Regions from separate parts of the Homo sapiens genome. Here regions 2, 3, 4, 5, 6 and 7 are each reported to be linked to region 1. The links are microRNA targets in miRTarBase. Many come from high-throughput screens and were not tested one by one. Region 1 holds a microRNA gene; each other region holds the end of a gene's coding sequence.
Evidence for each region. Region 1 holds the annotated microRNA hsa-let-7a-5p (UGAGGUAGUAGGUUGUAUAGUU, at 2,421-2,442, opposite strand). A microRNA usually pairs through its seed, bases 2 to 8, with sites in the 3' UTR of a target mRNA and lowers its output. Matches are read on the target gene's strand: a 7mer-m8 pairs with bases 2 to 8, a 7mer-A1 pairs with bases 2 to 7 and ends in A, and an 8mer does both.

Region 1 (4,076 bases):
GGGTGGGGGAGCGGTGGTGAGCAGGAGAGTCCTGGTGGAGGTGAGCACAGGCATGAGGGAGGGGTGCTGGGAGGCAGTGCAGGCAAGGGTGTCAGCAGAGATCTGCTCCGGAGACAGAGGGGGCTGCTCTGAGACTCTGAGGCCTGGCAGTGGGAGTGGGGAGGGATGGAAATGGTGTTTAGAGGACAGAAGTGGCCAGATGTGGCTGCTGACTAATTATGGGGTGAAGAAGGGGATTTGGACAGTGCCCATGTGTCACCCACTCTGGCCCCAGAGGATGATGGGAGAAGGGACCATGGGGCACGTCACTCATCTCCAGCTGCAAACTCCTACGCAGCTGTCAAGACCCAGCTCAGATGGTCCCTGCTTTAGGAAGCCCTCCCTGCCCTTGGGCCCCTCCTCCACGTCCCTTTGCCCTTGGCCCACAGGGTGGCAGCAGCTCCGGGAGGGTAGGCAGGCCTGGGCTCTGAGGTGTTTGCCGTGCAGGACTGGCACAGATGGGTGTCAGGGTAGGGGTGCCGGTCTGCCCAGACGTGGCCATGCAGGGCTGGGGTTGCCTGCAGAACCAAGGCAGGCCAGGAGGGCACAGGGGGGAATCTGGGCCAAGATTGTGGCCTGGGTCAACAGGAGGGGCGAGGATGGGCACTTGGGTGGGGGAGGTGTGGGCCCAGCTGTATCAGCCCCTCCCCACCAGGGGCTCTCGGTGCTGGGCCAGGCATGAACAAGCCCACCCCACATGCCCAGGGCGGGATCACTGGGCCCAGCCTACGGCAGCTGCTAGACGAGGGCCTGAGGCCTCCCAGGAGAATGGGTGCACTTTTGGGATGGCAGTCTGTCAGAGGAATTACGGGTGCCCTGGAAACTGTCCTGAGGGAGGACGGAAGGACAGGCACGTCCAGACTTTGGTCAAGGCACTTAAGGCACGGAGGTGGCCTCAGGAGCCAGGACTTGGCAGTGCTCTGAGCTGCTGACCTGGGGCCTTGGTGGCTGCCCCGTGGGGACCTCTCCACCGGGCCTGGGTCCCGGTGTTCAGCCCGCCTGGCTCAAAGGCAGCACGAGAGGGCAGAGAACGGGCTGGGCCTGGGATCCTGAGCCCAGGGTACAGCACGGAGCCAACTGAGGACTCTGGAGGCACCGGGAGGCGTGAGCAGACAAGTCTCATGACCTGGAACAGCTCGTGGCCAGGGGCCTCCACACTGTCCCGCAGCAGACGCGCCCCAGAGCCCAGTCCCTGGGCTTCCAGAATGAAAGGGGCCAGTTCCAAGTTCATGGTCAGAACAGCTTTATTGAATCTAGCTCCCAGATGCCCACCCAGCTTCGGCTCAGGCCCCCTGCAGGTCACTGAGGTGGGGGGCAGCCCTCCCGTGGGGTCGTGTCACTGAGGTAGGGGGCGGCCCTCCCATGGGGTCGTGTCACTGGGCTCCTCAGGGAAGGCAGTAGGTTGTATAGTTATCTTCCGAGGGGCAACATCACTGCCCTGAAACCACACAACCTACTACCTCACCCCGCCAGGCCCGGCCTTGCACTGCGGGAGGGCCCGCCGCCCCCCGCCCAGCACCAGCCCCTGCCTGGCGGTCCTCAGTCACCAGAGCAGGAGGGCTGGGCAGGCGCAGGGCAGGAGGGACAGGGGAGATGGCACCCCAGGAAGGGGCAGCTGCTGCTGGCTGGTCTTGGGAAGTCCCTGGCTCTCTGGGCCTCAGTTTCCCCAGGTACAGAGGAGCCACTGTCTGCCTTCAGATTGTGCCATGTGGGACCCAGTGTATGCAGAGCTGTTCCTCTCACTTCCTGCTCAGGAAAGGTGCCTTGGCCTCCCTTCCTCCACAGGCAGAGGCCCTGCCACTGAGCTGGCCAGGCTGGGGCACGTGCTGGGAACCTGGGGTGATGGGCAACGCCAATACTCGCAGCCCTGTGACCTCCAAACGTCTCGGCCACCCCTGGCCCCACGGTGCCTTCTCCTGGTGCTCAGTGGAGGGTACGGCTCAGGGCCACCCATGAGCCTGGGCCTGATGGCGGGGGGAGTGTTGGGGAGTGTTGGGAGACAGAGGTCAGACAAACAGCTGCGTGGATCGCCTCTCTCAGTGCGGCTGGGGCAGAGGGTGGGGTCGGCTCAGCTCTCCTCTGCCCTCGATGCTCCACACTGCATCTCCTTCCATCCTCATTTGCCTCCATTTTACAGAGGAGGAAACTGAGACCCAGAGAGATCAGGGGCCTGTCCAAGGTCACACAGCAAGTGGCACCTAGGCCTGTCAGACTTCTCAGTGTAGGCGGCCCCTGCCCCCGACTGCTGCCAAGGCTGCCCCCAAACCTGGCCCTGCCCGCTCCCAGCCAGGGTTCCAGACGCTCTGTCCACCGCAGATATTACAGCCACTTCAGGAAAGACAGTAGATTGTATAGTTATCCCATAGCAGGGCAGAGCCCCAAACTATACAACCTACTACCTCACCCCAAAGGGCAGTCGGTCTTGGTGCCGATGGGACTCCGTGGCTTCCAGAGGCACCTCCTGGGGACGCGGGAGGAAAGAGGGCTGAGGAGAACAGGGGCTCGAGGCTCGGCAGGCCACACGCACCAAGGGCACAGGGATTCTGGCGGGCAGGCGCGGTGGGCGCAGGGGGCTGGGACGCCGAAACCCTGGGAGTGGGGACATTGTGGCCAGCACCAGCAGGGACGGGAGCCTGCAGGAAACCACCAACCAGAGAGGGACGAGGAAGAGAGAAAGGAGGAGGGAGGGAAAGCCCTGGCGGCATTTTGCGACGCTGTCACAGGCAGCCGGCTCCCTCTCATCTGGACAGGAGTGGCCATAATGTCCCCAAGGAACTCTGCACTGGAGACCCTAGGAGGAGGGCTGTCATCTGTCGAAGGCCAGCAAGACACAGGCATGCGAGTGCCCACCCTGCTCGGCCCCCTCCCTCCCCGCACAGCGCCACCAGAAGCAGCACTCGTGGCCCCCAGGCTGGCTGAGTAGCGGCTTCACGGGCGTGCCGTCTCCTCCCACTGGGCAGGCAGGCATCCCTCCCCAGGGGCCCTGGTTCTGGCCCTGCTGTGCAGGCTGGCCTGAGCTGACCGCACTGCAGGAGGTGGCGGGAAGGTTCTTTCCTTCCTTGAGGGAAGTGGCCTCTAGGGGAGAGCAGCTGGGGGGGTAGTCACAGACCCTCAGGTCCACCCAGGGTCCAGTGCCTGTCCCTGCGGGTGCTGGCACACTCAGTGCCCTAGCTTGGGACGCACAGGGCTGGGACAGAGTGTAGCATGAGGATGACACTGAGAGGGCCTCGGGGCTCCCCTAGCAGGGGAACGTGGCGAGAGACGGGCCTCCCTAAGCCCCGCCTATCCTGGGCCTGGTGCAGGGTCAGCCTCAACAAATGCTAATTGTGGCTACCACCTTCCTGGGGAAAAGCTGAGGGGGCAGATACGACTGTCAACCCCTCTTAAACAGGTGAGGAGACCGAGGCCCAGAGAGGCAACGTGACCTGGATGTCACACAGCCAAGGGGGCAGCAGAGTGAGGTCCAAATGTCCTGCTCCCTGCCAAGCTTTTTTTTTTTTTTTTTTTTTTTTTTTTGAGATGGAGTCTCACTCTGTCCCCCAGGCTGGAGTGCAGTGGCGCGATCTCGGCTCACTGCAAGCTCCGCCTCCTGGGTTCACGCCATTCTCCTGCCTCAGCCTCCCGAGTAGCTGGGACTACAGGCGCCCGCCACTACGCCCGGCTGATTTTTTGTATTTTTAGTAGACAGGGGGTTTCACCGTGTTAGCCAGGATGGTGTTGATCTCCTGACCTCGTGATCCGCCCGCCTCAGCCTCCCAAAGTGCTGGGATTACAGGCATGAGCCACTGCGCCCGGCCTGCTTCCTGCCAAGTTAAACGGCATGCTAGCTCTCAGCTCCCCATGCCCAAGTGGACTTGAAAGGTCTACCCCAGCCCTCCTTCCACAGCCCATCCTGAGCAGGCTGCCTACTCCAGGCAGGCCCCAGGCTGGGCTGGACCATTTAATCCTCACAGCCCTGGTAAGGCTGAGATCACGGATCCCACTTCATAGTGGAGAAACTGAGGCTCAGGGGGTGCTGAATCTCTAGCTCTAGGTGT
Region 2 (4,076 bases), not on the chromosome of region 1:
ATCAGTAAATAAACATAGTGGCCAGTTTACTGATGAGTATCTCCCAGAACAACGATCTCACCTCTACGGGATAACTGCAGTCTACCCCTACTGCCCAACAGGTAAAAAGTATGCTTTAGGATGCTCCTTTAAATTAGCAGGGTAGAGAAGGGATATATATGGTATTTGATTACCCCTGCTGCCTGTGACACTGCCACCATTGCCTTCTTCCTGCCCTGAGGGCCAGTCTTTACTACCTTAAATCTACCTAGTTTATACACAAAATGCAAAGACTTGCTGTTGCAACTTGGTTACAATATACTCACCCACCACCCTGTCCCACCCCTGCTCTTCTCTCACAGGAAGAAAGTAAGTACAGTAATGTAAAGGAAGACTTGGAGTTTACAATCAGAACCTGGACCCTAAAGAACAGTGACTGCAAAGGCAAAGAAAGTAAAAAAGGAATTGGCCATTAGACGTTCCTGAGCATCCAAGATGAACATTTTGTAGTGCAAAAAGACTTTTGTGAAAAGCTGATACCTCAATCTTTACTACTGTATTTTTAAAAATGAAGGTTGTTATTGCAAGTTTAAAAAGGTAACAGAATTTTAACTGTTGCTTATTAAAGCAACTTCTTGTAAACATTTATCATTAATATTTAAAAGATCAAATTCATTCAACTAAGAATTAGAGTTTAAGACTCTAAACCTGATTTTTGCCATGGATTCCTTCTGGCCAAGAAATTAAAGCACATGTGATCAATATAACAATATAATCCTAAACCTTGACAGTTGGAGAAGCCAATGCAGAACTGATGGGAAAGGACCAATTATTTATAGTTTCCCAACAAAAGTTCTAAGATTTTTTACCTCTGCATCAGTGCATTTCTATTTATATCAAAAGGTGCTAAAATGATTCAATTTGCATTTTCTGATCCTGTAGTGCCTCTATAGAAGTACCCACAGAAAGTAAAGTATCACATTTATAAATACCAAAGATGTAACAATTTTAAAATTTTCTAGATTACTCCAATAAAGTGTTTTAAGTTTTCCTATGACTTAAGGATCTATATTGTCTCTAGGACAAAGCTGGGGGTTGGCATATATGCCTTAACCACAAAGGAGAAAGGTGATTTATGCAAACATACAGTACATAATAAAAATTCTACTTTCCTAAACTTTATTAAAGAAAAAAGCAATAAGCAATGGTGGTAAATCTCTAGAACATACCCAATTTTCTGGGCTTCCTCCCCCGAGAATGTGACATTTTGATTTCCAAACATGCCAGAAGTGTATGGTTCCCAACTGTACTAAGTAGGTGAGAAGCTGAAGTCCTCAAGTGTTCATCTTCCAACTTTTCCCAGTCTGTGGTCTGTCTTTGGATCAGCAATAATTGCCTGAACAGCTACTATGGCTTCGTTGATTTTTGTCTGTAGCTCTCTGAGCTCCTCTATGTGCAGCAATCGCAGAATTTGAGCAGCTTCATTAAGAACTGCATCTGTTTTATGAGAAAAGAACACTGCTTCAATACATAATTTTTACATTTAAGGCCATTTATTTCCTCCCAAGTATTCAGTCTGTAAAAAAAATAGTTTGAATTTAAACAAAATCACTTACCTCCTGTGTCAAAACCAAGAATATGTTTGTCTAAAGCAACAGGTAAGCCCTTTAAAAAAAGAAAGACAAAATGAGAGTATTTATGGTTAAGAATAGCATCCTTTCCTCAACTGAAACTGAAAAGCACCTAGCTATTCTGGTGTCTTAACTCTTTTAGCTGCATGGGCAAGGGAACTAGGAATTTTGTTTATATTTGCTTTGTGATGATTGTGATTAGCGAGTTTTCCCTATTTCAACCGGTTAGGGGGAAAAGTTAACCTTTAAATGTACCAGGAAGCTCTATAGCTCATCCAATCCTTTAGCCCAGGCATACAAAACAATATATCCTTATTGCAGCAGTGCCTTGTCATTACTGCTATGGAAGGCAAGTTGAGCCAGGCTGTTACTGTCTTATTTTGGCGACAGTAAGCAACAGTATAAACGGCAAAAATAGTACCTTATATTCCATTTCTGAGCACATTAATTTGTCTTTACAAATTGTACGAACCTTTCAGCCAGCATGGTGTTTGCCAAGATTATGTATAATTATGTATAATTTAACTTTCAAGACTTGACTTGGAAGTTACTTTGAAACAAACAGTCTAGGAAAATGAAAAACTAAACCACTCAGCACCTATGGACATACTAAAGATGGTGACTATGGTGATGCCAAACTTCACAGAAACAAATTCTAAAATGAGGACAGTCTGTACTTCCTGCTGATTATATAAAATCACTGCCAAGAAAAACACACTACCCGTACTTTCAATCTTTCAATGTTACAACCTGTTACTATTCAAATGCTTTAGTCACTGCTCAATTCTTGCCTTATCTAGTAATGTAAATCTACGTAGGCTCTGTCTGCTTTAAAACAGCTAACACATGTAAGTCTGAAGAAACCAATGGGTACGAAAGCACAAGTGAGCAAAATTAAAGAGCAGAATTGTACTGAGTGGCTTTATATGTTCATCTAGTACCAGAGGCTCCACTTTTTTTTCCTTTGCCAACAGGCCACCAAGCTACCCCTGAAAACTACCATATGCCTCAAATAGTAGTTATAAATGCTTATAAGTACACTAGACTGTAAGAACTCCACTAAATTGTTATAGGCTGGTATCTTTTGAGATGACACCAAAATTAAAATTGGGAGCATTAAAAATAAAACTAAATTTTACTTTACAAACAAGAGCAAAGAGATTTGGCTAAGCCTTTACTTACACTGCCTTCCAAAGCATAGTTTTGCTGAAGGAATGAATGAATGAATGATTGACTTTATTACACCAGAACAATTTACTGTCTGTTCTATAGGGAGGGTGAAATAAGCTGATCTTTAACCCAACTTCCAGTGGCTCGATTCATATACAACGAGCCAGTAAGAACCTTTAAAAGAAAACAGTGTCTTTCAGAGATACTGCCCTGGCATTAGTAACCTTTTAACACTGCTTGGCCTGCCTAAAGGGGCTGGAGGACAAAAGGCATTGGGAGATGGGGGAAGGGCGCAGGGAGGACAAACAACATAGTTGTGCCCAAGGCATTCACTACAACATCATTGCTGCAGGAGGCAGGTGTTATCAGACACTGCTGCTGCTGACCTGAGGACAGTCTCTCCACCGCTGCACAGCCAGTGAAACTTTAGGCATCTTTGGATTTCTGATATAATCTAAAAATGTTCCATATTTTCTCTTTAAGGGGAAGGTAGTCATGGGATATAGCTTTTCTCAGCCTACAAGGTAGGACTGAAAGATACCATTTCAGTCACCTGTACCTTGAACCTTACACTCCAACAGAACCCCCTGTCCCTTCACCTGGGCAGACTGACAAGCTCATGCAGACATCCACGCATGGACCCTTCTCCCCACCTACCGTAAGAGCACAGGCTCTCAAGTCAGACTGCCTGAGCTCAGTCACTTACCAACTAGGTGACCTTAGCCAAATTACTTTCTCATGTTTTATGCCAGGAAATTGAATAAAACAAGAATTTACTCTGAAGAAATAAGAGCAAGGATAGAATTTAGATAGAAAAAGAAAACTAATTTGTAGTGAGGTGTGTTCCTTCTTCTCCAGCATGAGTCAAAATAATCCAGTAAGTTTCATATGGGTAACTCATTTTAAATAAACTTCAACGGGCCACAAGCATGATTTGTGGACTGTGCATGAGCTATTTGTGGCTTTTTTAAGGTACAAAGTGAGAGGAACATGAAGTTTTTCACTCAAAAATGACCCCCTAGCCACTGAATACATTCAATTTGCTTTAGGAAGCACTGAAGTAAGCTATCCTTTCTCTAAGTTGTAGAACGTAGAATGGATATCTTAAACAGATACATGCAAAGTTTAAAATCACGGCCATACCAGAAGAAATGTTCATTAACAACTTATTTAGGATTTATAGAAACGTACCTCTTTTGTTTGATTTGCCTTAGCAACTGCATCCTGTGTCAGGCGCTCCTGAACCAAAATCCGAATTGCCTAAGAAACCCAAAAATATTTTTACTTTTTATAGGC
Region 3 (4,076 bases), not on the chromosome of region 1:
TGGCTATGCTGGATCATCGCAGGCACCAAACAAGTCTGCAGGTTCTGGGCCTGGCAAAGGTAGTGTTTACCTCTCCTTTCCAGGATAAGGCCTGGAGTGGTGGGCTCCTGCCTGATCCCCTCTCAGGCAGGGCAACCCCTGAGTGATCCTGGAGGTGGGGAGCCTGGAGCTGGGAACAACTGCTGTGGGGAACAACTGCTTTTCCTCCTAGGAGTATCAGTGTCTTCAAGCACCACTGGTCTACCTGATATGACTGGTTCTGTCTACAATAAGACACAGGTGAGGGACAAAGGTGGGTTGGGTGTATAGGTTTTTGAGAGGTTACAGCCCAACCTGACCTTCACCATTGTCTTCTTTGCCCTGTAGACTTTTGACAAGCAGGGATTTCATGCAGGGACGCCTCCACCTTTCAGCCTGCCCTCGGTCTTGGGCTCCACTGGGCCCCTGGCCTCGGGAGCGGCCCCTGGCTATGCACCCCCACCATTCCTACACATCTTGCCAGCCCACCAGCAGCCCCACTCACAGCTGCTGCACCACCACCTTCCGCAGGATGCACAGGTGAGTACAGTGATGGAGGCAGCCACCCTACTCTGGGCCAGGGGTTCTGCTCCAGCCTTGACAGCCTTCCCTTCTCCTCTTCCTCAGAGTGGCTCGGGTCAGCGCAGCCAGCCCAGCTCCCTGCAGCCCAAGTCTCAAGCCTCCAAACCTGCCTACGGCAACTCTCCATACTGGACAAACTAAACCCAGAAGAGAGGGGTGGGCTGGGGCAAGGCTTATCCTGGGCAGGAGAGAACACACGAGCACGTATTTGGGAGCCCAGTGCCCTTTCCTAGAATTCCCGACATGTGTCAGCCATGCCTCTGTGGGGAGTCTGCCTCCCAGACTGGCTACTGTATGTAATGTATTTATGTATGTATTTGTAAATGTGATAGAAGTCTGGGGGGGAGTTGGGGGATGGCGGCAGATGTTAGCCAGGTCTGCCCTCCCCATTCAAGCCCCTTCTCCACTGTAGCAAAATAAGCACCCCCACCCCATCTGCCTTCAGGTCTTCTTCACAGCCTGCACTGCCCAGTGGGCCACTAGGGGCAGTCTCTGGAAGGGCTGGTTCAAGGCTGTTTGGGTATAGGGGTCAGGTACCAATGAAGAATCACGACTTGTCTCACTCCTTTGGAAATTGTTTTCTTTCCTGTGTAATTACTTCATACCTCTGTTTTTGAGAAACTGTTCCGTTTGTCATCTGTCATGGTCTCCTTCCACCAAATCTTCATCTGGGAATAGCAGCGGTATCCCTCCACCCAAGTATGGCCACCTGTTTGTCTTCATATAGAACAGGGGCTTCTGGTCTGGTCATGTCCCTAGAGACTTACTAGAGACTGGCTGACCATGAAAAAAAAAAAAATAATCTGAGTTATTCAGCCAGTCAGCTCCCCTTTAAAAATCTAAGGTATCTCCAAGCAACACATCTCCATTCTAGTTGTCTTGAACCACGTGGGCAACTGTTTCAGGGGTTTTCTCTTGCCCAATCCCCACCTAATAAAGTTCTGAGAGCATGCATGGTCTCTGTGTGGTGTGACTGAAGGGCAGCTCAGGGCAGAAGCCCTGGACTTCACAGGGCTAAAGGAGATCCCACATGGTCATAGTCTTCTGACACAGGCTATAAAGGCTTGAAATGGTTTTCCTTTTTACTGGACCCTCTTGGCCCAAATCACAATGGCTGTAAGGACAGCTAAACCTCCTTACAGGGCCCAGGCCATGTTGATCAAAGTTAACCTGGCTTTTCTTATAGCTCCTTAAGAGACTTAGGGATAGGGCAGTGTCCCACAGAGCCCTGTCCACTGGATACCAGGGCAGGGTAATTTCTTTTCCAAATCTCAGTGGACTTTTACAATCTGAAGCAAAGCCAAGAACTGAGAGCAGGGTTCTAGGCCTTAAGGGAGAGTATGAACAGGTATACCTGTCTTTTGCTTGTCATCAACTGAACATAATCTTGATTGGCAGTCAAAAGCTATGGTAGAACACGTGACTAGTGAGGGTGTCATGAGGTAGGCTGGTGGATCCGGGGCTACATATCTGCTCCAGAAAAGCCCAACCAACCATTCACCTTGTGTCAGGTCAGAAGCCAGGGAGTAACCAAGGGCCATAGGAAGGAGGCAGATCTCCTGTTGGCCAACCACAACTGTGCTCCAATCCAGCAGGCAGGAAGCTCAGGGCCTAGAAGTGTTGCCCAAGGTGCTACAGCCTCTCTTTTCACTCCTAAATCGCTGCTTCAGATCAGGTTAAAGGAGGAAATAAAATGGCTAGTCAGGTGATTGATTGATTGATTGTGTCAGAACCAGCCTGGGGTCACAATCTACTTTTTCTGCTTTTGGCCTCTACAATTGAGAGCGATGGTCCTGTCATCAGATGGGACCGATACTCCTATTAACCCACAGCTTGGGACCTTACCTAGAAAAAAGGTAAGTGTCTACAGGTAAAATTAGGACTTTTATTAAATAGGGTGATCTGCCTGATCCCTGCTATTAGCAGCAGTAAGTTAGGAAAACAAATGACAGTGAAAATGTTTGCCTAAGGAAAGCAGCAGAGCACCCCTCAATCCTTCACTGACCTACTTGTATCAGCTCCCGTTTTCAGAATCAAGTTTAACAAATGGCTACGTCTATAAGGAGCTTGAAGGGACTGGGGATACACCAGGGAGGTGAGTTAGTTAGAAAGGCAGATTCCCCAGTTTTGGTTTTTGTCTAATTTTTCAGCTGAGCCCCAGCGTAATCTGCAAACTTAACAGTGATAATGAGACCACCTTTTAGTTTTCTTTAACACAAGGTAAAAAAAGAAGAGGGTCATTTCATGGGGAAGTAGCAATACAGGTATTTTATTTCACATTTTATTAGTAGACAGATGGGCAGAAAAAGACAAAATAAACCACTAAAGGGGAAGTCAACACAAAATCCGTCAGATAATCTTTTCTCATAAGTTAAACTGAAGCAAAACATCTACAATTTCAGCTAAAACTATTAAAGTCAGGTGTGTCCTGCTGGTTTCAGAATAGTTGAAAATTGCATCTGAATCCTTTTAGTTGTAAATGTAAACCTTGTTTGTTTTATCAGGATGGGAGGGGTGGAGAGTTCCTTTCCAGTGGAGAGCTGCACATTTCCCCTTCCAATCAGTTTCTTACAACATGTGCCCCAAACGTAAGGAAACCAGCAAGTAAAGAAGCAATTTGCCAGGGTAAGGGAAAGAAGGTTCTACAAAAAAGTTTGACTAATAGAAAATAACTCTGGAATGATTGATAAAAGGAGAAGGGGGGAAGACTGAAAGAATCAACAGCAGAATCATATACTTCTCCACCCAGCCTCAAAATACACAGAACTGAAGAGCATCTAGTGAGGCCTCAATTAGAACTAAAAGGAATCTAAAAATGCAGGATTTTGAGTTCATGTCACATCAAATAATAAGCAAAACTGTACGTACATGGTTCCGGATTGAGCCTGAGACCTCCACTCCCAGAAGGGGGAAAAAAAATTACAAACTCAAGTATTTTCCACAGGGATGTGTTCTCAGGGACAGAGCTCTGGAACCAGCCTCTGGGTTTCGTTCAGTCAGTCTAAAATACCAGAATGTCCACCTGCTAGCAAGAGACTTACCCAGTCTTCTGGAACTGATTGTACTCATCAGAGGCAAACCCAGCCCTTGACACTTTTAACACCCCAAAGGGCTGAAAGGTACAACCTCCACTTGGCGCTCCGGCTCCCTGAGTCAATGTCTAACAGAGGCCAATAGGGCCTGATGGAACAGCTGTGCAGCAGAGCACCTCCCGCAATGCCAGGGTGCTGGGGCTGCCCTGGGAGTGAGATGCTTTAGCAAAGGGGAATGAAAGGCTTAATTTTAGGGCTCCAAGAGAATAAGACCAAGCTACTGGCTGTAAACTTGCATGGGGGTTTGGGGGCATTTTGGGGGAGGTAAATCAGCACTGTGAGAGGCTTTGGCTCCACAAGATTTGCAGGTTAATCTGGAAGCATTACTTACAAAGTATGGGGAGTAAAAAGGTAGTTCCAACATCTATGAGAGTTTGTAATCAG
Region 4 (4,076 bases), not on the chromosome of region 1:
GATCCTGCCCTCACCGGCACCTTGTGTCTGTCCCCAGATGCTGCGCCGGCGGGTGGGGGGTACTCTGAGACGCTCAGACAGCCAGCAAGCAGTGAAGTCCCCACCACTGCTTGTAAGTATTACCTCCTGGTCAGAACCCTGGCTCTCAGCCCTGCCTCACCTCTCCTAGTGAGTTTCTGACACCTCTGCCTCTTCTTCCCCAGGAGTCACCTGATGCCACCCGGGAGTCTATGGTCAAACTCTCAGTGAGTTCCAGCGTTGGTGAGGTTGCTGTTTGTTGGGGGATCTTGCACGCCCAAGATCTCTGACCCCACCCTGCCTTTGTTACAGAGTAAGCTGAGTGCCGTGAGCTTGCGGGGAATTGGCAGTCCCAGCACAGATGCCAGTGCCAGTGATGTCCACGGCAATTTCGCCTTCGAGGGCATTGGAGATGAGGATCTGTAATCTCCACTGCTTGGATGTCTGCCCTCTACCCCAGAGGAATTTACAGAAACTTGCCCTGTGCCTGTGTCCCCCATGCTAGGGGCGGAGGGGTCTTTTCCTTCTTCTTTCCTACCTACCCCTTTTCTCTTGGCCAGGGGCCTCGTATCCTACCTTTCCTTGTCCCCTGGGCTGGCTGCACAGAGGATTGCCCCTTCTCTTTTCAGAGCTGGCCCTCGATGCCAAATTAGCATTTAGTATTTTGCACAAAGTCTAAGGGACCATGGCTGCCTGCCTTGGGGAGGAACCATATCTCCCTCTGGGCCGCTTCTGGCCTCTTGGAGCCATGGGCCAAAGGCCAAGGGGATGGGCAGAGGTCTGTGTTTGGTCTGGCCCAGTTCCCCATCATTAAACTCAGCCTGACTGCTGCCTACCTCTGGTTCCCTCTCACTGCCCCTGCTTCCCCCATCACAGCATGGACTACTATGCTAAGGGTAAGGCCAAATTGCCTGCCATTGCCAATTCAGCATAGACATGGCTTTGTTAGTGTTTCCTTTATTATAAAGCACTGAAATAAGTTAAATAAACAGGTGGGAGGCTGGGCAGTCCCCCAGCCGGTTTGTCCACAGCCCCTGGGGGCAGTGGAGGTGAATACAGGGCCCTTCTCACTGAGCTCGTGAAGTGCCTCAGTCAAGGCAAGGTCCCCTGGTCCATATGGGCCCCCCCGCCCATGGGGTTGGGCTGGTCCTTATAGTGCCTACGTTAGTCTGTGTGGAGCCCCTGGCCAGCGGGGGAGAAAAAGGTGGCTTCTGGTCCGTCTGTATAAAACATGGGGAAGAAGGACCTAGTTCAGGATGAGTCTGTGTGGACAGCCCGGCTGCCAGCAGTCCCCAGGGCTGGTGGGCCCCGAGAGCTCAAAACAGAGGGTGGGCTATGAGGTGGGGCCCAGCCCTCAGAGGCAGAGAGACCAGGCCCTCCTGCCCCACCGTGGCCATGCACCTTCTGGTGGCGCTTGTAGTTGTCCCAGTGGCCCGTGGTATAGGCGCAGGTGGCACAGCGGAAGGGCTTCTCGCCTGTGTGCCGCAGCATGTGACGTTTGAGGTTCATGCTCTGGTTGCAGCTGTAGTTGCAAAGGCTACACCGAAAAGGTTTGTCACCAGAGTGGATGCGACCATGACGCTTGAGGTTGGCCAGATTGCCACAGGCATAAGGGCAGAGGGGGCACTTGTAGGGCTTCTCTCCTGTATGGACGCGCTGGTGCCGTTTCAGGTTATCCAGATGAGCAGAGGCATAAGGACAGCGGGCGCAGCGGAAGGGCTTCTCACCACTGTGTGTCTTCATGTGCCGGGCCAGGTGGTTGGGATAGTGAGTGGCAAAGGGGCAGAGGCTACAGGCAAAGCCTTTGTCACTGGGGCCCTGGGGCCCCCCACTGGCACCCCCTCCAGCCTCTCCTCGCATGCAGCGCCCACACATGGCAGCTCCCAGCCGACTACCCTCACCCTCCTCCAGCTCTTGTCCACAGCCCCGGCAGGTCCAAGGGAATAGCAGCTCTGGCAGTGGTTCTGATCCAGTCCCGCAGAGGCCCTCCCCTTCACCCCGCAGCTGCCCACAGTCTGGCAGGAAACTGGCACCACCTGGTGGCACATGGAGGCTCAAATCTGGAAGGAGCAGAGCATCTGTGGGGACAAAGACCTGGGCTATGAATCCAATCCAAGCATTCCTAGGGTCAGCCACCCATGTCCCAAGATCTTTGGTCCCTGGTGTGTCTTACCTTCAGGTCGCCGGGGCACCGCCCCCTCCTGCTCTGTGGGACTGGGAGGCCGGGCTGGTCGTGGAGTACAGCAGCGGAAGCCACAGGTCGGGCAGGGAGGAGTGGGGGGCCCTGCGTGGGTACGCTGATGCCGCCTCAGGTTGCCCAGGCTGCTGCAGGCAAAGGGGCAGTGGGGACAGCGGTAGGGCTTCTCGCCAGTGTGGGTGCGGGTATGTCGTGTCAGGTTGACGAGCTGGGCTGAGGCGTAGGGGCAGCGGCCACAGCGGAACGGCTTCTCTCCGCTGTGTGTCTGCATGTGCCGCTTCAGGTGGCTCGAGTAGTGGGACACGAAGGTGCAGAGGCGGCATGAGTACAGTAGCCGTGGGGGCAGCAGGGGCCCCCCACCCGGCCCTCCTGCCCCACAACACGGCCCCTCACCTGTCGGCCCCCCACACAGCTGGCAGGCTGGGCCTGGCCTCTCACCCCTGGCCTCCCCTGGACCCCTGGCTGGCTCCTCAACTTCACTCTCCGCACTTAGTGCCCGGCCGCCCCCAGACTCATCGTCGCTCAGCCCATAGGGAAGCCCAGGCCTGGCCCCCAGAGAGTCTCCTGGTGAAATAGACATAAGAAGAGACATCAGCATAGGGTAGGATCAGGCTCCAAACTCTCCCCTTTTCACTTATGGTCTCCCCACTTGCTTGGCTCCACCCTTAGCTTTGATGATCCCTTTAGTTCCCTCCTAGGAATCAAGGTCTCCCCTGCAGTAATTCCAGAAAATTCAACATGAATTGTCTACCTCTTACACTGGACTAATCTAGTGATGGTAGAATTGACCTGTATCTAGTTTCCCTCAATGGTCAAGGATCAAGGGCTCACAGTGGATCACAGACTGAAATGAATCCATAATGAAATTAATTCTTGAGACAAGAAAGTAAAAATACGAAAGGGAGAGAGCCCCCAAGACCTTTTTCTAAGCTCTATTGCTAAGGCCCCTTTTAGTAAGGAGCTGATATAAAATAAAACCTATCTCTGAGGCAAAATTTGGAGGGAAGTGGAGACAATGAAAGTAATGCATGTAATACCACTTGCCTGCCTAAAGAACAGATATTTACATGGATCCCCTCAATGACTTTCAAAAAACATCTTGCATAAGTGGATGGGTAGTGCAGCAAATTAGGGTAGGGTGATGCTAAGATCACAGGGAAGAGGGACATGGAAGGATAAAGACAGAAACTAAAACCTCTCAATACAAAAGGAGCTTACGCTGCAGGTGAAAGGGAGTTAGATTAGACCTAAATACTGGGTTGAATGATTTACAGAGAGTTTGCTTCCCTGAACCTCTCTTAAAAGTAAATACACATAAGGAATGGGCTAGGGAGAGAGACAGGGCATTTACTTTTAATCAGTTGCTCCATGTGATTCACCCACCCTCCTATTCCTATCACCTTTGACCAGGCCTCAGAACTTCACCTCAACAAAGTGATGGAAGTGATTGGACCATTAAACAAATGAAGTCATCTAGCTCAAATGTAAACTAAACCAGCCCTCGGTTGTGGCAGGAAATGGTGTTCTGTTCACCTAACCTGCCTCCTGAAGGGCTGGGGTCTCCAGCGGCCGCTAATCCTTAACCAAGACCCGAAAACCCACCTTCCGAGTCTCTCTCGAAGCCCATGAGCTGGTCACTGTTGCCGTCGCCTTCCTCCTCTTCCTCTTCCTCCTCAAACTCCAGATCCTGGCCTAGTAGCAAATCACTCTCCAATACCAGGGCCCCGGGTCCTTCGTCGAGGGAGTCTTCAGTATCCACTGAAGAGGGGAGGGGGCTTGTGGATTCTCCCTCAGGAACCAGCCCTCGTGGACCACACTTCCCGTACTCGCTGACCCACTCTGATTCCCTTAGTGCCTCGGT
Region 5 (4,076 bases), not on the chromosome of region 1:
CTGGGCTGAGACAAGATTGGGAGTCATCAAGAAGCAGGGAGTTGGTTTCTTCAGGGAGGGGAGGGGCTGGTGGGCACCATGGGAACACACAGATTTGGTTATCTGTCATCCCTCACCACAAACTGATCTTTCTTCTTTCCTTAGTTTTAATCAGCTGGATCTGCCTGCCTATGAGAGCTTTGAGAAGCTCCGCCACATGCTACTGTTGGCTATCCAGGAGTGCTCTGAAGGCTTTGGGCTGGCCTAATAAGGCCCTGCCCAACTCCGTGGGGTTTTTTTTACCATTGTTGGACCTGGGGAGGGGGGAGTTAAAAAAAGAACCAGAAAGAAATTGTCAAAAACCAATAAATGAAATCCACCAACTCACCGTGTGTGTCCCAGCTGCCCCATCTTCCCCAGCGCATACCTGTTCCTCTTCTCATTCTCTCCCCGCCGCCTGTTTCCTCACCTTCTCTCCCCTTTCCATGCCGTCCATGATCCCCACCCCATGTGTTTTAAAAAGGCAGTAGCCTTTGCAGGGACCTGTCTGTCCCAACTGTTTGAACAGTGTGCTCCTCAGATTCTGTGTTCAGAAGGATTTGCTGCATTGAGACTTGAAACCTTTGGATAGGGGAAAAAATTATATATATATATATTTTTTTGTTCTGTTTGCATTTCTTAATTTGTGCTTGGAATGTGTTGATGTGCACAGCTAATGATTCAATGCGAGACAAGATTGGCGTCTGTGTTGTGGAGGTTTCAAATAAAGAGCACTCTTCATAACTCACTTTTCACAATGGAGTTTTTTTCAAACTTAAAAAAAAAAACAAAAAACTCTTAAGCACATGCTAGGCATCTGGAGAAAAGATGGATTCTCCAGGAAACCATCCCTGCCCTACCCGCTTGCCCACCTGCCTCCACCACTGGTGCAACTTCCTCCTTCAGAGTCAGTTTCTGCAGTCAGGAGAGATGAGCAGTTCACCAGGAATTGGGGGTGGGGGCATCTGTTTTTTTTTTTTAGAATGGGAGCTGCACTTGGGGATGGTGATGGTGTTAGAGATTGCAGCCCAGGACAAAGCATCACCTTGCTCAAGGGGAACAAACTGCAGCAGGTTGTACAAAACATTCAGAGAGCTCACTTGACCCAACCGAGGGTTTTACTTGGTGAGCCTTTCTAGTAGTCTTGAGTCTGGGGCTCAGTTTTAGATTTTTATTTCATTAATGTTTGTTTATTTCTAATAAATTTTAATAAGCGAGTAATTTAACTAGGTCGCCAGAAGACCATTATTTTTGTTTGTCTATTTTTGTTGTCGTCACTCCCTCTCTCGTCATCTGTCTGCCAGTCTGTTCACAGATCACCTTGTAGTCCCTTGTGGTTTTTACTCCATCCAGTGCTTAAAGCTGATCTAAGGACTTCGATGGTTCCAGCCTTCAAAGAAAAAATAATTTAATAAAAATTTAGTTAGAAAAAATAACCCCAAGTGGTGCTTGCCTTGTGTGGTTTTTCTCATTTTCCTGGGGTGCTACCTCTGAACAGATTGTCCCCTTGACCTTGTCCCAAAGTGTGGGTCTAGGAAAGAAAGGGTGTGTCTTTAACCTGATCCCCTGGTCCTGGAGCCAAGGCTGCTAGCCATTTTCCCCTTTTTTAGTGTTCCCACTCTTTTGTGCCTGGCCCTGCTTTGATGACTGAGAAGGCAGAGGAATTGCCCCATCCGTGTTACTGAGCTTCTAGTAGGGAGGCGAAGACAGTGATTAGTTTTGTGACAGATGAAGAAAGGGGTCTCAGTGCACATAGAAGTGCCTGACCTAGCCTGGAGAGTCAGGGAAAGCTTTCCATCGTCGGTGCACTTGGATTGCAGCCTAAAGCTGAGCAGGAGTTGAGGTTAAGCAGAGAGGGGTCATATAATTCAAGGCAGGAGGAGTTTAGTTGCTTAGAGTCCAGCAGGACTTTAAAATGGAAGAGATACACCAGGTGCGGTGGCTCACGCCTGTAATCCCAGCACCTTGGGAGGCTGAGGCGGGTGGGTCACCTGAGATAAGGAGTTCAAGACCAGCCTGGCCAAAATGGCAAAACCCCGTCTCTACTGAAAATACAAAAATTAGCCAGGCGTGCTGGCGTGCGCCTGCAGTCCCAGCTACTGGCAGTCCTAGCCACCGCGCCAGTCCCAGCCAGGTTCCGTGACTCACGCCTGTAATCCCAGCACTTTGGGAGGCTGAAGCAGGAGAATCGCTTGAACCCGGGAGGCGAAGGTTGCAGTGAGCTGAGATCACGCCATTGCACTCCAGCCTGGGTGACCGAATGAGACTCGGTCTCAAAAAAAAAAAAAGAATAAGCAGAGAGTAGAATTTGTCAATAAGCAGTAAGATTAACTGGTTCTTTGAAATAAAGGTCTGGCAGGTAATTTAAATTTGAAAGTAAAGGGGGGGTTCCTGGGTTGGAGGTTGGGGGTTGGATGTGGAAGCTGGGAGTACAGATGGAATAATCCTATGGGAAATGGAAGCAAATCTCATTCAGTGGGATACTACAAAAATAGAGCATGATCAAGTGTGATTTGCCCCTGGGATATGTGTAGTGTAATATTAATCGCCTCATTGTCAGTTGAGAAATCTTTGTCCGTAGATGGCAAGGCATTTGTTCACATTCAAGAACCATTCCTGGCAACCTTTAAAGGTAAAGCTAGCTTGATAAGGTAGTTTCAGACCAACAGCCAACATCACACTTGAAAGATAAGGTGGCTAATTATCACTATTAGTGCTGTTCTGCTATTCTGCAGTTTTCTATTTCAGTAAAACAGGAAACAAAAGGTATAACTTAAACCATTTGCTAACGGAGTCAAAAGTTATTGGAGCAGGGCATGGTGGCTCATGCTTGGAATCCCAAGGCTTTCAGAGGCCAAGGTGGGAGGATTGCTTGAGCTCAGGAATTCAAGACCAGCCTGGGCAACATAGCAAGACCTCTCTACTGAAATTTTTTTTTAATCTAGGCATGGTGGCACACACCTGTAGTCCCAGCTACTCGGGAAGCTGAGGTGGGATGATCGCTTGAGCCCCAAAAATCGAGGCTGCAATGAGCTATGATCACGCCATTGCACTCCGGCCTGGGAGACAGCGAGACCCCGTCTAAAAAAAAAAAAGTATTGGAACTTAAAACAGTCTAGCAAGAAACTTGGCTATAATGAACAAACTATTCACATAAACTTATTACCTAACATAAATGAATTGTGACAAATTCCTACAATGGAATCCTACACAGTAGTAAAAATATCAATTGCATACATCACATGCACAATCTCAATGATAAAGTTTCAGGCTGGGCGTGGTGGTGCGTGCCTGTAGTCCCAGCTACTTGGGAAGCTGAGGCGGGAGTATCACTTGATCCTAGGAGAGAGGTCAAGGCTGCAGTGAGCTGAGATCATACCGCTGCACTCTAGCCTGGGTAGCAAGTGAGACCCTATCTCAAAAAAAGAAAAAGTTTCAGGAGGGTACATACATATAAGACCTGCTCAAAAGTTGCAAAATCATGCAACATGTATGAAGAGTATGAAAAACCATGAGGATGATAAAATCTTGCACAATGTTGAGGATAAGTTATGGGACAATGCAGGGGTAGACAGAGGGGATGTGGCTGGGAAGAGGCACGTTACACAGGGCTTCAACTACATTGGTGATGTTTTCTCTCTTTTTTTTTTCGAGTCAGAGTCTTGCTTTGTCACCCAGGCAGGAGTGTGGTGGCGCATGATCGGCTCACTGCAACCTCCACCTCCCAGGTTCAAAAGATTCTCCTGCCTCAGCCTCCCAAGTAGCTGGGACTTCAGGTGTGCACCACCACGCCTGGTTAATTTTTTAAATTTTTAGTAGAGTCAGAGTTTCTTCATGTTGGCCAGGCTGGTCTTCAACTCCTGGCCTCCTGTGATCTGCCCACCTCAGCCTCCAAAAGTGCTGGGATTACAGATGTGAGCCACTGCACCTGGCCTTTTTCTTTTCTTTTAAAGTAATATTTTGTCTTTGTTGAGTCTGAGTCTCAACTCTGTTGCCCAGGCTGGAGTGCAGTGGTGCGATCCCGGCTCACTGCAACCTCTACCGTCAGGGCTCAAGCC
Region 6 (4,076 bases), not on the chromosome of region 1:
AATAACTGTAGCCATTACTTTTCTATGAAATAATGTTTTACTTTTTTAACTTCCTTACAGTTCTTATTTCATCGACCATTAAGGCTGTTAAATCTGCTCATCCTTATTGAGGGCAGTGTCGTCTTCTATCAGCTCTATTCCTTGCTGCGGTCGGAGAAGTGGAACCACACACTTTCCATGGCTCTCATCCTCTTCTGCAACTACTATGTTTTATTTAAACTTCTCCGGGACAGAATAGTATTAGGCAGGGCATACTCCTACCCACTCAACAGTTATGAACTCAAGGCAAACTAAGCTGCCTCTCAACAATGAGGGAGAACTCAGATAAAAATATTTTCATACGTTCTATTTTTTTCTTGTGATTTTTATAAATATTTAAGATATTTTATATTTTGTATACTATTATGTTTTGAAAGTCGGGAAGAGTAAGGGATATTAAATGTATCCGTAAACAAGGTGATGTGATCTTTCATGTGTTAGTATATTCGAATAATATACATATGAGAGGTATGCCTGTCCAGTAAAGAGATTGATTTGTTTGTATGGCTCTGGAATAACTCATTCGTTTATGAACACATCTCATGTATTACTTGACACAGTACCTTTGGTATGTCTGCTTTTCTTTCAATCCTCATTATCTTTAGCCCTCAGCTGGCCAGTACTTATTGCTAAAGAAAGGGAGATCAATGGAGTTGCCTACCAGCACCCATTCTCTTTTAGTTCAGCTGGCTAATAGTATTGGAATACATTGGGAAAAGAGTGGGTTAAAGTCCTAGGTGGGGTTCTCTTTGTTGCCTACCAGGAGAAAGCAGTAGGCTTCCTTTCTAAGATACGGACTCAGCTGGTCTATTTTACCCTGTGACATTTAAATATACTTTTGAATAAGCTACTATCCTGAGGCTGAGGGTTTTGCTGCCACTTTTCCTGTGTTTCCACTTCTGCTTCCAAAGATTTTCCTCTTAGTTGTTTGAAATAATACTTTGCCAGACAGGAAGTCTTTAGACTGCCCACATTCATGAAGAAGATGATGTGTGGCTGGATCAGTAGGAGAAGCTGAGTGCAAATGCCATGTGGGCTAGAGTATGGGAAGGTTGAAAATTCCAAGTAACTGGGAGAGTGGGCAAGTCCTCAGCTGAACAATCTTGGATGTAGTCTAGCAGCAACCCACCTACAATGGCGTTATGTTTGGAGTTATGAGGGGAAGTGAAAGATAAGAATTACCTACAGCTTTGTACTCAGATAATTTATATCCAAAATTTGTGTTTTAAATTTCATACTCCAGAACTTTCATGTTTATGAGTATTAGCCTTTTAAGTTATGGGAGGTGATATACTTAGTCCATTGATGTTGTCACTTGTCATCTAAACTTATGAGACCTTGTCTTAGAGAATCTAAAATATATTGTCATATGTTTTCTGTGCTGAGTTTGGTTTGTTACACTGTGAAGCTTTTGGTGAAACAAAATAAGACTTATGAAGTAAAAAGACCAATCATGTCGTTGACAAGCTGGCTCTGAAAATAATTCTTGCAGAAGAGTTCCTGAAAGGCTTCACCAAGGGGAAGTATTGTGAGGAGTGTTTGTAAAACCAAGGTACCCAATATCAGTTTTATGTTTAAATCAATAATTGTTTCTTTAAATATTTTGATGTGTATACTTTTTTTTTAAGTTAACATTATTTGGCATTCAGTCTGAGTCTGTTCAACCATTCAACAAATATATATTAACCAGTAGGCACTATATTAGGCCCTGGGGATATAGCAGTGAATGAGAAATGCAAAGGTCCTACTTGCACAGAGCTTACAATATGCGTGGGGGTGGGGGAGTTAGGTGGTGCAGAAAATACAGCAAATAAATTTATGTGTAATATAACATTCCCTGGTAGTAGTGATAAGTGTAGCAAAGGGAAATCAGGACAAGGAAATAGTGGTAAGAATAGCACTGCTAGAAGGCATCTTTGAGGAGATGATTTTTAAGCAAAGAAAAAGCAAGACTGAATCATATAAATAGCTTTGGGGAGAATTCCATGTTACAGTAGCAGAAAGGGCAGTGCCCTGAGGTGGGGACAAGTTGGTATATTGGAAGAATAGCAAGAAAATATATTAGGTTAGTTGCTTTTTAAAGTAGTTCAGCCTAAATATAGTGGTTCTTGAGGTAGGGGTGGGAAGGGTAGGGAATCTGCCATCTTTCTATTCTTTCTGTAGGATCTTGAAAATATGCTTCTCTTGGCAGCAACATTTTCATGAGATTACTCAGCAGTTGAGAGCAAAATGGGTGGCATGGGCACAGAGATATCTCATCAAAATTGCCCCAACTTGGCTCCAGCTTGGGAAAGTAACCCAGAAAACCCTGATTAGAGATAACAGACCAGTCTTATGAACTAATATGATGCCCCTTCTGGCTTGATCTGTCTTGGTCCTATCCTAAGGGAATAGCACAGAACCAGATGCTGGCTTGGCTAAATAAGTAAGTGGATATAAGAAATAAATAAAAATTAATTTTGGCTAATGGAATTGCAAAGTTCCTCCTACCCTCACCTCCAGATATGGCAGCATACGGGGCATAAGACCGTTTAGTTCAACGTGTTCTACACATTCCAGCTGTTTTTTGTTTGTTTGTTTTGTTGTTTTGTTTTTGTAGGGGCCACGTTCATGGAAGAGAGAAAAATTACTAGTTACCCGGATATCCTATTATAGTTCATGTAACAGAAGGGACACTATATTTGCTCACTGATAGTAGAAAAATGTGTAATCATTAAAGAATGACCTTTTTTGTAATTCTTTGTTGGCAAGTTAAAATTGTTTGTGGAAAGCATGGTATAGCAAAAGTTCAGTTGGGTGAACTGGGATACTGGAAAAGGAAAGAAGATACTTGACTAGTCTGGGTGGTCTAAGGTGGGTAAATAAAGGAGTAGAGGAGGGTAGTTCACAGGAATGAGCATGACAGAAGTTTTCCTCAATATCCTGTTTACTCTGATTCCATGTTTATATTCCTAATCCTCCTTTCCTTCCTGTCCCTATCAGTCACCACCACTGCCACCTGTTGTGCCGTTTCTCTCTCTTTTTTTTAATTAATTTTTTTATTTCTATTAAGCTAGCCAGGCATCTCATTTCTATGTACTGGGCAATTATATGCCAAACACTGCTGGGTGCCGGAGATAGTGATGTTCGAGTTCATTAACTAATAGAAGACAGACAAGTAAACCAGTTGTCACACTAGGGTGTTCATTAACAGAAATATGTATGAGATACGTAATAGATATCAGATCTATTAACAATCTTGAGTGTGAAGCCCAATAAAGTGCTCTTTTCATAAGTACTTCAAATAAGCAGACAGATGTCTTGGAACTTTTGTAGACAGAAGACAGCTAATGAAAGATTATAAGCTAAGAATAACTTATGATCCACTGGTTTCTAGTTCCCAAAGTAATCTCTAGATCAGCAGCATCAGCATCACTTAACTGATCAGCTGACCCTTCTGGAATCATAGGATAGACTAAATAGTGAAGGTCTATCCCTTCCCAAGAACACCTGTAACGGCCAGAAGAGGGGGCTGTCTCCTCAAATGCACTGACAACAATACAAGAACATACAGATTATGAAGAATCAGGGAATCATGACACCTACAAAAGAAACTAATAAAGCTCCAATAATAGACCCCAAAGAAATGGAGATTTATGAAATAACTGACAAAGAATTCAGAATAATACCCATAAAGAAGTTCAGTGAACTATTAATATATACAGATAAAAAATTTAATGAAATTTGAAAACAGTACACTAAAAAGAAAGTTGACAAATAGAAACAATAAGAATGGGATAGAAATTCAAGAGACTGAAAAATTCAACAGAAAGCTTCAACAGCTGACTCAGCCAAGAAGAAGAAAGAATCAGTGTGCTGGGAGACAGAACGTTTGAAATTATCTAGCCAGGAGCAAAAAAAACAAAAGAATTTCTAAAATTAAAGCCTACAGATTATGGAACACCATCAAGAGACCAAACCTTCACATAATAGTGGTTGGAGAAGGAGAAAGAGGTGCCTGAAAAGCATATTTAAAGGGGCCAAAAAGCATATTTAAA
Region 7 (4,000 bases), not on the chromosome of region 1:
TCTTAATAGTCGGGAGTACTGTTTGAACATTATTATAAAGTACCTACTATAACCTTGAACTCCTGGTCTCAGGTGATCCTCCCTTCTCAGCCTCCCAAGTAACTGGGATGACAGGAATGTGCCACTACACCTGGCTAATTAAAATTTTTTTTTTTTTTTGTAGAGACAGGGTTTTGGTATGTTGCTCAGGCTGGTCTCGAACTCCTGGCATCAAGTGATCCTCCCACCTCAGCCTCCCAAAGTGTTGGGATTACAGGCATAAGCCACTATGCCCAGCCTAGAAGTATTTTATAGGATGAAGAAAAGAGTCGTAAGACAACTATTCATCTAAGACACAGATGTTCTCAATACAGGATCTAGTAAATCACTACTTCATTTTTGCCATTAGAAAGTAGATGTAACTATTGTGATATCATGCCTGTTTGCTAGCACCTTTCTGAAAGTGCACTAAGCCACAGAGGAGGAAAGCAGTCCCTTGGCTTCCGTCTACTTGGATGCATGTGATGTGTGTGGCACACATGGCAGAGCTGTGGGCATCTTGCTAGCTGTTGAGCTTTGGGATCCATTCTGATTGCTTCTCCCAAATGAGGCAGGGGGCATCTCATTTACACGGATACAAACATTCCATTGCCTTCTTTTATTGCTCAATACTTTATTCCCACTGATGATATCAATCACGTTGTTGTGTTTAGTTGTGTATACTTCTGTTAGAGTTCCTTGAGAGTCAGGCCTGTGCATTATTTATCTTTGCAGCCCAAGTACCTGGCATATGCTTAGCACACAATAAAATAATAATTCAATGGGAACTGAATATATGAGGTTAGACTTCACAAGTCACTTGCCCTACCAGTTACTGTATGTTTAATTATTCAGTCAACAAGTATGTGAGAGCTTTCTATGTGTGAGGTACTACACTATGCACTGGTCATATAACTTCTGAATGGGCTGTAATTCAGCAAAGAGCCAAGCCTAGTATGATTCAGCAGGAACTACCAGCCTCTTAGTGGAAAGGGCTTCTTGGGGAATATGTACTTTTCTCTCTTCTAAAGAGTAACTTATGGGGCCCAAAACTTTCTCTCCTTTCATTCTAGGGCTAGGAAAGAAAGGGTAGAAGGCACATGACATACTTAGGTCCCACCCTCATCACACTCAACAGAATATCATACTAAGAATCAAATAATAAACTTTAATTTGAATATAATACAGTAGAATATAATAATTATTTTGAGGTACAAAAATAATTATAAAATACTTTTCCCATTTGCAAGTAATGTATGCTATAGACTATAAATAGTACACTGATGCCAGAAACTGTACATATTTCACTACATGCCTAAGTCTGGGTCTTCCTCTCTCCTCCATCATCACATGTAAGAAAACCAGCTATGCAATACTACTTTGCAATCTTGAAACTCTGTTAAGACATTTCAGAAGTAGCTATCTTTAATAAAAGAATTAGATGGTACCTTTCTTTAAAATAGTATGTATGTTTTTTGGCTCAATCCTATAGATGAAAAAGTTTACAAAAATTAGATTTCTGCCATTTTTGGAATATCTGCTTTTTTTTCCCAAAAGACAGGAAAATGTCAGAGAGAATCTAGAGTGCTGAATTCAACACAAGCTCATTTGAAAGTAAGTCTCCATCAATGGAAAAGCTTTTTGACTATAGGCAATTTGAAAATAATAGCAATTCACTGGAAGACAAATTTCACTGCCAAAACCTGCAGACGAGTTCTCCCTGTCTTTTCTATTACTGTGTTTCCTAATATTTTAAGTGAGGTAAGAATTACAAGAGTGATTCTAAAAATTATAGCAGGTTCTACCCAGATGGGACCCATCTAGTTCCTAAGATGCTGAGAGCCATTTATTATTTAAAAAGTAGGAACAACATGAGGAAACAGAAGCTTTGGCATATGAAAAAAGATGTAGCTTTGCTTCCTAGAATTCAGTTATTTAGGCCAGTTTATTTTGATTTGTGCTCTGAACTGATTATATATGGGTCTAAAGATAAAAGACAGAAAAACTGGCCATCCTCATGAGTAGAGGTGAAATAACCCCTTGAGACAGTCCTGAAGGTGAAGGAGATCTTCAGTCATCGATCTCTTCTTGGCTGCTTCCACTCCTGCCATTTTCTCATCTCCTTTCTATACAACTCCTTCATCCACAAGTGGAGTGCTGGGATAAATGGAACAACTAATACAGTGCCTACGGGGATTTTCCTGACTTCAGTGCTTGAGGAATTCTTTCTTTCAGTTCTCTTCCCATCTATTCTCTTCTAGGTAGGGATGGCTCTGCACTTTCTAGACCTGTAACACTAGGTACCTTAAACTAATAGAAAAAAACTATATGGTGTAAAAACAAAGGTAGTATAAAACATAGAAAGATGTGGGTCTCTTTTCTGGAAATAGGTTGTGAGCTTAAGAATGCTCAGTTGTATGTTATAAGAGCTCAGAAGCCTGGGGCTGGAATATGACTTACGACAGAGAGCCTAGCCATTAGGAGATTCCCTCAAAGGACTTTATACGATTCATGTTTTATTATCGTTACATTAATAAGTGCCCACAATACATATAAATCACTGTAGCCCTACTTTCAAAACTGATGTTTGGGCCAGGCGCGGTGGCTCATGCCTGTAATCCCAGCACTTTGGGAGGCTGAGACGGGCGGATCACGAGGTCAGGAGATGGAGAGCATTGTGGCTAACACGGTGAAACCCCGTCTCTACTAAAAATACAAAAAATTAGCCGGGCGCGGTGGCGGGTGCCTGTAGTCCCAGCTACTCAGAAGGCTGAGGCAGGAGACTGGCGTGAACCCAGGAGGTGGAGCTTGCAGTGAGCCGAGATCGCACCACTGTACTCCAGCCTGGGCGACAGAGCGAGACTCCGTCTCAAAAACAACAACAACAACAACAACAACAACAACAACAAAAACTGATGTTTGTTAAGCAAGATACATTAACAAAAACCTAACCTGCTTTGTTACCTAAAATAATTATGGTACCAAACTATAATGGACTAGTGAGATTCATAAACATTGTTTCTTGAATACCTTTAGAGGTACTACAATTTTTTTCATAGTACTCACCTTTTAAAACATTGCAATACTCATCTTACTGCGCTGTAACATGTTATTATCATCAACAATTTAATTACTGAAAGAGTAATCCCATAAATCTATCCTATTAATGACTGGACAGTTTGATAAAGTAGCTTACTGCCTTTCTTAGAAACACATAGCTAGTTATTCTCCCAAGATTCAGAGATGACGTTATAAAACCCTTTATGGAATTCCCCAATAAAATGGGATAACGTACAGAGACGCCTTAAAGTTAAATGATACAATGATGCTGATTCTTGAACATCAAAGATGTTTGTTATTGCAGCCAGGAGACAATGCCATAAAATGCTAACAAAAAAAAGTTATACTGTTTTCCTTAAAGTCAGTAAATTGCATAAAAGTACTCTGAGCATTTTTGGAAGAAAGGCACCAGATAAGTCCAAAATCTTATTGCTACTAGGATCATACAGGGTCACAGACTATGGCACTCTGTTCAGCCAGGAGACTAAGTCTCAGCAAGTCAGTCTCTGACCTTGAGGCTTAAAGAGCAAGGAAGGAAAATGTCAATAAAACAGAGCCCTGTATCACAGATTAAACTGGAGTGAAAATGATTTCCAGTTTTATGTCAAAGTAGAAGCTGGTTCCTAGGACGCTGGCGCTATTTTAGATGGACACTCTGTTTTCTTTGGCCCATTTCTTCATGATCCGGATCATGTATTCTACTTGGGTGTTACCTGTGCTTCTCAGTAAATGGAGCACTTCTCGAAGGGTCTCTCTGAGGAAAAGATTTGAAAAGACAAAGTGTTTCAATGAAGAATGAAAATTAAAAAATAAAATAAACTCTGAACTGTCCTTCATACTGTATGTCTTGTAGGGCATTTTTGGTAATAGACTCTTTCACTGTGTATTCACAAAGCAATTACAAACTGCCTAGCCTTATGTT

Region 2: miRTarBase lists NID2 as a target of hsa-let-7a-5p. Seed matches in the 3' UTR shown: 7mer-A1 at 517-523.
Region 3: the mRNA of UBAP2 is a reported target of hsa-let-7a-5p. The part of its 3' UTR that is shown has no 7-base or 8-base seed match.
Region 4: miRTarBase lists SNX17 as a target of hsa-let-7a-5p. Seed matches in the 3' UTR shown: 7mer-m8 at 851-857.
Region 5: miRTarBase lists HUWE1 as a target of hsa-let-7a-5p. The part of its 3' UTR that is shown has no 7-base or 8-base seed match.
Region 6: miRTarBase lists TMEM39A as a target of hsa-let-7a-5p. The part of its 3' UTR that is shown has no 7-base or 8-base seed match.
Region 7: the mRNA of IFT56 is a reported target of hsa-let-7a-5p. Seed matches in the 3' UTR shown: 7mer-A1 at 1,776-1,782 and 7mer-A1 at 1,226-1,232.

What each region holds. Positions count from the first base shown.
Region 1 is chr22:46,111,118-46,115,193 of GRCh38, reverse strand. It overlaps MIRLET7A3 (microRNA let-7a-3), which reads right to left and starts at 2,445; the gene lies at 2,372-2,445. It overlaps LOC124905135 (collagen alpha-1(III) chain-like), which reads right to left. Exons shown (of 2, transcript XM_047441696.1): 2 at 1,266-4,076. It overlaps MIRLET7BHG (MIRLET7B host gene), which reads right to left. Exons shown (of 5, transcript NR_110479.1): 5 at 1,266-4,076. MIR4763 (microRNA 4763) reads right to left here and starts at 1,628; the gene lies at 1,537-1,628. It also overlaps MIRLET7B. RefSeq lists an enhancer at 3,884-4,076.
Region 2 is chr14:52,001,762-52,005,837 of GRCh38, reverse strand. NID2 (nidogen 2) reads left to right here. Exons shown (of 22, transcript NM_007361.4): 21 at 1-101; 22 at 342-1,029. The coding sequence ends at 352. It overlaps RTRAF (RNA transcription, translation and transport factor), which reads right to left. Exons shown (of 8, transcript NM_016039.3): 6 at 3,972-4,040; 7 at 1,596-1,644; 8 at 1-1,476. The coding sequence ends at 1,322. Among named protein-coding and RNA genes, the nearest start is that of RTRAF, 14 kb to the right of the region's middle.
Region 3 is chr9:33,919,169-33,923,244 of GRCh38, reverse strand. It overlaps UBAP2 (ubiquitin associated protein 2), which reads left to right. Exons shown (of 29, transcript NM_001370062.2): 26 at 1-59; 27 at 212-279; 28 at 367-558; 29 at 646-1,552. The coding sequence ends at 741. UBE2R2 (ubiquitin conjugating enzyme E2 R2) reads right to left here. Exons shown (of 5, transcript NM_017811.4): 5 at 2,846-4,076. Among named protein-coding and RNA genes, the nearest start is that of SNORD121B, 13 kb to the left of the region's middle.
Region 4 is chr2:27,376,276-27,380,351 of GRCh38, forward strand. SNX17 (sorting nexin 17) reads left to right here. Exons shown (of 15, transcript NM_014748.4): 13 at 38-112; 14 at 204-245; 15 at 331-1,260. The coding sequence ends at 444. ZNF513 (zinc finger protein 513) reads right to left here. Exons shown (of 4, transcript NM_144631.6): 2 at 3,818-3,973; 3 at 2,192-2,779; 4 at 960-2,096. The coding sequence ends at 1,270. Among named protein-coding and RNA genes, the nearest start is that of ZNF513, 2.4 kb to the right of the region's middle. RefSeq lists enhancers at 1,427-1,586, 2,201-3,071.
Region 5 is chrX:53,529,480-53,533,555 of GRCh38, reverse strand. It overlaps HUWE1 (HECT, UBA and WWE domain containing E3 ubiquitin protein ligase 1), which reads left to right. Exons shown (of 84, transcript NM_031407.7): 84 at 145-1,460. The coding sequence ends at 247. Among named protein-coding and RNA genes, the nearest start is that of MIR98, 25 kb to the left of the region's middle.
Region 6 is chr3:119,428,199-119,432,274 of GRCh38, reverse strand. It overlaps TMEM39A (transmembrane protein 39A), which reads left to right. Exons shown (of 9, transcript NM_018266.3): 9 at 61-3,326. The coding sequence ends at 294. Among named protein-coding and RNA genes, the nearest start is that of TMEM39A, 33 kb to the left of the region's middle.
Region 7 is chr7:139,189,153-139,193,152 of GRCh38, reverse strand. It overlaps IFT56 (intraflagellar transport 56), which reads right to left. Exons shown (of 18, transcript NM_024926.4): 18 at 1,167-3,832. The coding sequence ends at 3,721. Among named protein-coding and RNA genes, the nearest start is that of UBN2, 40 kb to the left of the region's middle.